2 separate regions of the Homo sapiens genome follow, and region 1 is linked to region 2. The links come from fine-mapping of genetic effects on gene expression. A gene starts in region 2. The other region holds a variant in brackets. All regions are shown on one strand. Distances are from middle to middle. Region 1 has its middle 26 kb from the start of LINC02461. Region 2 holds the start of LINC02461 (long intergenic non-protein coding RNA 2461).

Evidence for each region. PIP is the estimated chance that this variant, and not a neighbour inherited with it, causes the effect.
Region 1: its variant is the best candidate, but not a certain one, in a credible set for the expression of LINC02461 in lung (GTEx, PIP 0.68).

The regions. Positions count from the first base shown.
Region 1 is chr12:43,179,437-43,183,838 of GRCh38, reverse strand. No RefSeq gene overlaps it. Among named protein-coding and RNA genes, the nearest start is that of LINC02461, 26 kb to the right of the region's middle. The variant A/G (reference allele first, on the strand shown) is at 1,870.
Region 2 is chr12:43,153,000-43,157,401 of GRCh38, reverse strand. LINC02461 (long intergenic non-protein coding RNA 2461) reads right to left here and starts at 2,087. Exons shown (of 4, transcript NR_146866.1): 1 at 1,537-2,087.

The DNA.
Region 1 (4,402 bases), 26 kb before region 2:
AAATGAGGTCATAAGGATGGAGCTCCCATGATGGGGTGAGTGCGTTTGTAAAGAGAGAACTTGCTTTCTCTCTCTACCATGTGAGGACACAGTAACAAGGCAACCATCTGCAAACTAGGAAGAGGGTTCTTACCAGAACCAGACCATGCTGGGACTTGATCTCAGACATCTCAGTCTCCAGAACTATGAAGAACAAATTTATATTGTTTAATCCATCAGGTGTATGGTATTTTTGTTATAGTAGCTGAGATGGTTTGGCTGTGTCCCCACCCAAATCTAATCTTGAATTGTAGCTCCCATAATCCCCACATGTTGTGGGAGGGACCCAGTGAGAGGTAATTTAATCATGGGGTGGGGGTTACCCTCATGCTATTCTCATGATACTGAGTGAGTTCTCACAAGATCTGATGGTTTTATAAGGTTCTTTTCCCCCTTCTTGCTTGGCACTTCTTCCTGCTGCCACCATGTGAAGAAGGACATGTTTGCTTTGCCTTCCGCCATGATTGTAAGTTACCTGAGGCCTCCCCAGGCACGCTGAACTGTGAGTCAATTAAACCTCTTTACTTTATAAATTACCCAGTCTTGGGTGTGTCTTTTTTAGCAGCGTGAGAACAAACTAATACAGTAAATTGGTACCAGAAGTGAGGTTCTGCTATTAAGATACCCAAAAATGTGGAACTTTCTTTGGAACTGGGTGACAGGAAGAGGCTGGAGCAGTGTAGAGGGCTCAGAAGAAGTCAGGAAGATGTAGAAAAGTTTGGAGCTTCCTAGAGACCTATTGAATGGTTTTTGACCAAAATGCTGATAGTGATATGGACAATAAAGTTCAGACTGAGGTAGTCTCAGATGGAGATGAGGAAGTTATCAGGAATGGAAGCAAAGGTGATTCTTGCTATGCTTTAGCAAAGAGACTGGCAGCATTTTGCCTCTGCCCTACAGATCTGTGGAACTTTGAACTTGAGAGAGATGATTTAGGGTATTTGGAGGAAAAAAAATTTAAGCAGCAAAGTGTTGAAGATGTCAGTTGGATGCTCTTAAAAGGATTGTTTTATTCATTCACAAATATATGGCTTAGAATTGGAAAAAAAAGGGAAGCAGAGGATAAAAGTTCATAAAATTTGCAGCCTGACAATGCAATAGAAAAGTCCATTTTCTAAGGAGAAATTCAAGCCAGCTGCAGAAATTTGCATAAGTAACAAGGAGCCAAATGTTAATCATTAAGACAATGAGGAAAATGTCTCCAGGGCATGTCAGAGATCTTCATGGCAGCCCCTCCCATGACAGGCCCAGAGGCCTAGAAGAAAAAATGCTTTTTGGGCCTTGCTGCTTTGTTCACTCTGAGAACTTGGTGCCCTACATCCCAGCTGTGGCTAAAAGGTGCCAATGTACAGCCCAGGCTGTTGTTTCAGAGGGTGCAGGTGCAGGCCACAAACCTTGGTGGCTTTCATGTGGTGTTGAGCCTGTGGGAGCACAGAAATCAAAAATTGAGGTTTGGAGACCTTTACCTAGATTTCAAACGATGTTTGGAAATCCCTGCGTGTCCAGGCAGAAGTTTGCTGCAGGGGTGGGGCCCTCTTGGAGAACCTCTGCTAGGGCAGTGTGAAAGGGAAGTGTGGGGTGGGAGCCCACACACAGAGTCCTCACTGGGGCACTGCCTAGTGGAGCTGTGAGAAGAGGGCCACCATCCTCCAGACCTTGGAATGGTAGATCCACTGAGAGCTTGCACTGTGCACCTGGAAAAGCTGCAGACACTCAATGCCAGCCCATGAAAGCAGCCAGAAGAGGGGCTGTACACTGCAAAGCCACAGGGGTGGAGCTGCCCAAAACCATGGGAACCCACCTGTTGTATCAGCGTGACCTGGATGTGAG[A/G]CATAGAGTCAAAGGAGATCATTTTGGAGCATTAAGATTTGACTGCCCCACTGGATTTTGGACTTGCATGGGGCCTGTAGTCCCTTCATTTTGGCCAATTTCTCCAATTTGGAATGGGTGTATTTACCCAATGCTGTACTCCATTGTATCTAGGAAGTAACTAACTTGCTTTTGATTTTACAGGCTCCTAGGCAGAAGGGACTTGCTTTGTCTCAGATGAGATTTTGGATGGTGGACTTTTGAGTTAATGCTGAAATGAGTTAAGATTTCAGGGGACTGTTGGGAAGGCATGATGCATTTTGAAATGTGAGGACATGATATTTGGGAAGGTCCAGGGACAGAATGATATGGTTTGGCTGTGGTATCCACCCAAATCTCATCTTGAATTGTAGTTCCCATAATCCCCACATGTAGTGAGAGAGACCTGGTGGGAGGTAATTTTATCATGGGGGCAGTTACACTCATGATGTTCGAATGATAGTGAAGTGAGTTCTCAAGAGATCTGATGGTTGTATAAGGTTCTTTTCCCCCTCTTGCTTGGCACTTCTCCTTGCTGCCATCATGTGAAGAGGGACATGTTTACTTCCCCTTCCACTATGATTGTAAGTTACCTGAGGCCCCCCCAGCTATGTTGATCTGTGAGTCAATTAAACCTCTTTCATTTATAAATTACTCAGTCTTGTGTATGTCTTTATTAGCAGCATGAAAACAGACTAATACAGGAGCCCAAAGTGACTAAGAACAGAGGTTGAAACCTATAGGGTAGGACTTAAGGCAGGGATTGAAAGCCAGATACTGAAGGCAGGCTACAACGTAATCCTATCACACAGATACACTATGCTAGGAAATAAATTAACTGGAGTCAGAAAGATAAATATAAACACTCTAATATTAAATAAACTCTTTAAGCTTCAGTTTCTTTATCTGCTCAAGGGAAATAATAGTACCTATTTCCCTGCATTTTGTGAGGATTAAATGAGATAATACAGGTAAAGTACTTGGAACAGTGCCAATGTATATATAGTAAGCATTATAAAAAGTAATCGTTATAATAATAATTATTAATATTACTGTCTAAGTTCCTGCTTTTAAGGAACCAAGAAGTAGGAGTCATGGAGGTATAACAACTCATAGTGTTTCTTGAATGACAGTGGTGTCACATAAATTAAGATATAAAAAGCAGAATTGTATCAATTCCAAAAAAGTATATTTCTCTAAAATTTAATATGTACACTAAAGATCTGTCTCCATGAAACTAGTTTAAAAATAGCCAATAAAAACCTAAAGTGTTTCTCTATTATTTAAATTCAAAACCTCCTCATAGAGCAAGAGAAGTATGGCTGTGTCCAGTCACTGTGGGGACAATGGGTCTTCATGACAGTCCTTTAAGGATCTTTTCCACAGTACCTTTTTGTGACTGGAAAAACATCACTTGATGACATTTTCTCAATCAAATCAGCTGCCAAACTGGATAAAATCAGCTTCTTACAGAAACCCAGATGCTGCCTCTAACCTAAACTGTGCTCAGTGAGGACATCCCCCGCGCTCTGCAATCAAAGAAATAGCAGTTGATATCTTAATTGCTGCTATCTGGCGGAAAAAGCATACACCTGTTGACAGATTGGCTCAAAACAATTTTAAAAGGAAATTTCAAAAGTAAGACAAGATTATTTTCAGGTCAGCACCACTTTAAACGGGCTACTGAAAGGAAAGCCCAGTGCCCTGATTTGATAGGATGCATTTTGACTGAGCACAGGTGCAAGCCCCTATTGCTCCTGACTGACGTGCGGTCATCACCTACTCAAATGATATCAGAACAGGAAATCCTGCAGAGACCTGCCAGAAATCATCTCACTGGGACAATAGTTCCAGCTTTTTAATAATGCCTGGATAATGTATTTATAAAAGATGATGGAGATTTTCAACCTTGGCAAATGATGCATGTTTATAAATCCATTCTTAAGTAGACACGTATTGTAAACAGGCAGGTCAGCTTAAGAGGGATATCCTGTAACATGTCTTTAATAAATATACAATTAAAGAATAAGCCTTGATGGCTTTTCTAGATAAAATTTTGTTGTAACCACCTTTAAATTCTATAGCTCAGGTTTGCATGTTGCAGCTTCTTCTGACCTCAGGAGAATTACAGTATTCTTTGATTCCAACCCCAAGCATTTATCTCATTCTGCTTTTTCTTGCTTTTCCCAAAGTCTAATTTGGCCAGCTCTATCTACATGTGTTCAGCTTTGCAATGATTTATTTCATATGTTCCTTCTGCTTATTTCAATTTGGCATTTGCTCCTATCATTCCCATATGTCAACAGGTTACTTTGAATTCAGCTGTCTTGCATAGGCCCGCCAAGATAACCATGATTTTCATACTGGCAAAAATGGTTATAGAAAAATAAACTCAGTATTTGAATAAGCTAGTTATTTTTTTAAAGGTCATTTCTAATGAACTCTTAATTCCTGCACAAATTACTCGTGAGAAACTTCTCTTGTCCTGTAGGCCCTAATGCTATCAGCTTCTTCT
Region 2 (4,402 bases):
TCTATGTTGCCCCTTGACAATTCCACCCTACCCTGGGGATAATTAGGGACTCCCTCCTGTCTGCCCCAGAACACTCTGTATTGCAGTACTCATAATATTATAGAGTTTATACATCCGCCCTACTGCCTCCCCAACTAGGCTGAGGACTCCTTGAGGGTGATAATAGCCCTTTTCTTGTATGACTTGTTTTATCAGGATACGTGGTGTATAACTGGAACTCAAGAAATAACATGAACTGTGTTAGGTGGACATTCTGCCCTATGTTCTGATTCCTGGGTTATACACAAGCCAGCAGTGTCCTACACCACCTAACAAAGAATTAGAAACCTTGATAAAAAGACTGGTAAACACAGACTTACACCCACAGAACCTATTTAGTTAACAACCTTTTGCCATAAAGTCTCTTGAGAAGTTACCCTTTTCCAAACAACTTCTTCTAAAATACATATATATATATATATACACACACACACACACACACACAGATAGATAGATAGATAGATACTCTAAAACATATAAAGTAAATAAGCATGATATTTTGACACTGCAGCTTTTGGGAAAATATGCTATTTTTATTCTAACAGTTCTTAGTCATCAGTTCTTAATCATTGAATATCAGAACAAATTTGAACTGAGTGCCGTGTTTGGATAAACTGAAAGTATTTCATTTTGTCTAAGTATGACTAGAGAGAGGGATGATGAGGTAACATCTTTTGTAATTTTTCTGTCTCTGTGTACTAAATAAATTTTCACATCTTTCCAAGTGCTCTCATCTTCAGCTATTATTTTGACTGAAATTGTCTTCTCTGCTATAACTTTAAATGTTAAGTGTGCTGTAAGTGCAAGTTAACCATGATCCTCCAAATGGTTGAAAACATTCATAAACAAAATTGTTCAGAGAGCAAAATATACCTTACAAAGAACAACTGCCTTTAACACTCCCCCACCAACCAGCACTCACCATCACATAAACCTTCATGTTATTACATTTTATGAACAAACTCTATTTTATTTTCAATTTGATGTTCATTACTTATATAATGTCATGACAATTGAAAAATATTTCTATTGTTCAGTTAAAATATTTTCCTATCTATAAAAATGCTTTGGGTATGTTGGGTTGGGATAAAATGCTTCCTAAATTTTTAAATTCAAATTCATAAAAACGCTTTTTCACATAATGGCATTTTACTTTGTGGGAGGATTTTTAGGAACAAATTAAGATTACCAAGTGAAGAACAAGTCAATTATGAAAGTGTCACTGACAAACTCTGGAATTACTGATGTGCAGAGAAGGAAAGGGAGAAGCAGGCAGATGGACTCATTAGGAGGCTTCTTCCATTATCCGGAGGAGAGACAATGATGGTTTGGATGAAGGTGGTAGCAGTGGCAGTGGTGAGTAGTGGTCAGATTCTGGATACAGTTTGAATATAGCACCACCAAGTTTTGCTGTTGGGCTAGATATGGACACACACCAGTGTGTGAGAAAAATAGGAGTCAAAAATAACTTCAAATCCAGAGATATCTAAAGCTTACCTCATACCATATGAAAGGTAAATTTGAGTTAGAACTAGGATCACAGAGTTTTTTGACATCCATCCTGGAGTTCTATCCACTCTATTTTGCTGCTTCAAAGGAGATCATCTGACATTTGAAGTCTCAATAGCCACTTTGTGACAGGAGAGCTGGAAACTTTTTTAGTTACTGCAAAAAGAAGGTCTTTATTGGGATTTTTTATTTGGAGAACTTAAAATATCTATTCTGGAACATTGAGGACCTGCAGCTGCTTTGAGGATTTACTCTAAAGCATTCTAAATCTTTAACCGGTTATTACTGAGGTCAGAGGGAGAAAGAACATTATTTTGATGTCCTTGCAGATTTTCTGGTTGACTCAAAATAACTCCACATGGCATGATGGAAAGAACATTCAACTAGGAAGCAAACTGGCTTTTGGTTTTCGGTAATACCACCAATTGGATAAGTCATAAACTCTCTAAGATTCAAATTCCTCATCTCTAAAGTAAGGAGAGTGGATAAGTAGGATTTTTCAACCCTCAGTTGATATAAACCTTGTAGAACATTCCAAGCCATCCCTGACAGCTGCCTTCTTCAGTTTCTGGGCTTAAAGAAGTATCTCAGTCACCTTGTCTTCCTGGTAAACTCAAGGTTCTGAAGACATAAGAGGAAATTCCTGTTGTTCATAAAAAACAAAGAAACCTTTAAAATCAATGGTCCTCCAAGTTCTTCTGGCTCTCAAACTTCGATTTGATATTGCTAAATCACTGCTTTTATGTATTAAAACACTTTCTGAAGTAGAAGAGGTATGGATTATAATTTTTTTTAAACATTTTAGAATAGGAAAACTAGTATTTTTGAGCTTATGCTATGCATCAGGCAATAGAATAGATATGTTAATAATGTCATTATATCCTTACAATAAGTAGGTTTTATTGTCTCGTTTTTTACAGTATGGACATCAAGGCTTAAAGAGGTTAAGTCATTTGTCTAAGACCATACAATGGTGGGGCCGGAGTTCAAACACAAGCTTTTTTGGCTCCAAAGCCTTCGGTATGACATCAACCTGTTACCAATAACAATAGCAATTGTCATTGATACATTGTAAGATATTGAAAGAGAAAAGGAGAAGAATTTACAATTTACATGCTTTTATTACTCACAAAGTGCCTTCAGACTACAGGTAGATAGGTGGTAGGACATCTGGACTGTGAGTTAACTCTCAGGAGACAAGCAATTGCATTTACTATCCTGTTCTTTCCTCCAAGGCTCCTCCACCAGCAGTTGTTAAAGCCATACTCACCCTTCACCAAGGCACGGCAATGATTCCTTCCTAAAAGCCCCGATGTGTGACATTTTCCAGTATGAAACAACTGATTGAGTTGGAACAGATTAATTTCATTAGTTTATAAAACTAAAAGAAAAAATGTAATTGTTTTGCTTTAAAAGGTGTAGGCAAAATTAAAAAATAAAAAGAGAAGAGAAAAAAAAAAACAACAAAAAGGTGCAGGCAAATTTTATTCTTTTCCCCCACTACTCTTCCTTTCTTTCCTTTCTTTCTTTCTTTCTTTCCTTCCTTCCTTCTCTTTCTTTCTTTCTTCCTTTCTTTCTTTTTCTTTTCTTCTTTCTCTTTTTTTTGGCCAACAATTTATAATTATTTAGTTGTTAATAGATGGTAAAGAGACTTTTCCGAAACTTGAATAATACTGACATGAAAAAGACTACAGTCAGCTAAAACTCCAATAAGACATAAAAAAATTTAAAACCAGAAAATTTAAATTTTCGGTTTTCAGAGGGGAAAAAAGGCAAAACAAGGTTAAAAAATGAAGCCAATGGGCAGTAAAGAGAGGGAAACTTATAATGAAAATAAACCTAGGGTTGTTTATTTTGGCAGGAGTATTTGGGTCATTTTGAAATGCAACTATGACAAAGAATTTTTCCATATTTTAGGAATAAAGAAACAAAATGCTAAAAGCTATTGCTAACATGAAAAATGGCACAACGCCTCATGAACTTTTGTCTAATAGTTGATTAATATTGCAAGTCACATTAATTTTATTATTTGCTACATAGTGACGGCTATGTTGTCTGTACAGAGACCCAGACCAGAGGCCTAGGAATATTGTACTTGAAAATAAGAATATCTTGATTAGAAAATATTTGAGATGTAACTTAGTCACTGTCTTGGGCTTAAAAGAACTTTTATATCACAAATAATAATTATTTTGTATATCGAGTAGGGGTAAAAAGAATAACTGAATGGTGGCAGCAGGCTTTGAGGTAAGATTAGATTAGGGAGATAAGGGAAGCCCAGAAACATGTTCCTTAGGACAAGGATGAAAATCTCCCTCCTTTGAGGCCACATGCTACATAACTATCTGGGATGGTTTAGGGGACAGAATCAAAGACCCTAGCAGGACTTTCCATTGTGGAGCTATAGCCAACTGTTTAGAGGACTCAGTCATATTTGCCATTCTTCTTTAATTCTCCATTGTTTCGTGCTATTATTATTTCAGTGTTTTTCCTGCCTTGGATTTTTGTCTCATGTACTTACTTCTGGTCTTTCTTTGGCATTCACTGTTTTTCTTTTGTTCCCATCTTGTGTTAACTCTAGGTGGGGAGATGGAGGAGGACGAAGGGAGACAGAAACTACAGCCTGACATCAAGAAGTTTCTCCCTTGCTAAGTACAAAATCGGGAAGAGAAATGCTTAGACACGTTTCCCACAAGGTGGGACATTTCCAACTCACCAAAGCAGAAGCTAGATGTCGAATAAAGTATAATTTATTACTTATTAGGAAATAAGGTTAAAACTAGAATCAAAGACTCTAGCAGGACTTTCAGTTGTGGTGCTAGGGACATTAAGACTGAATATAATGCAGGACTTG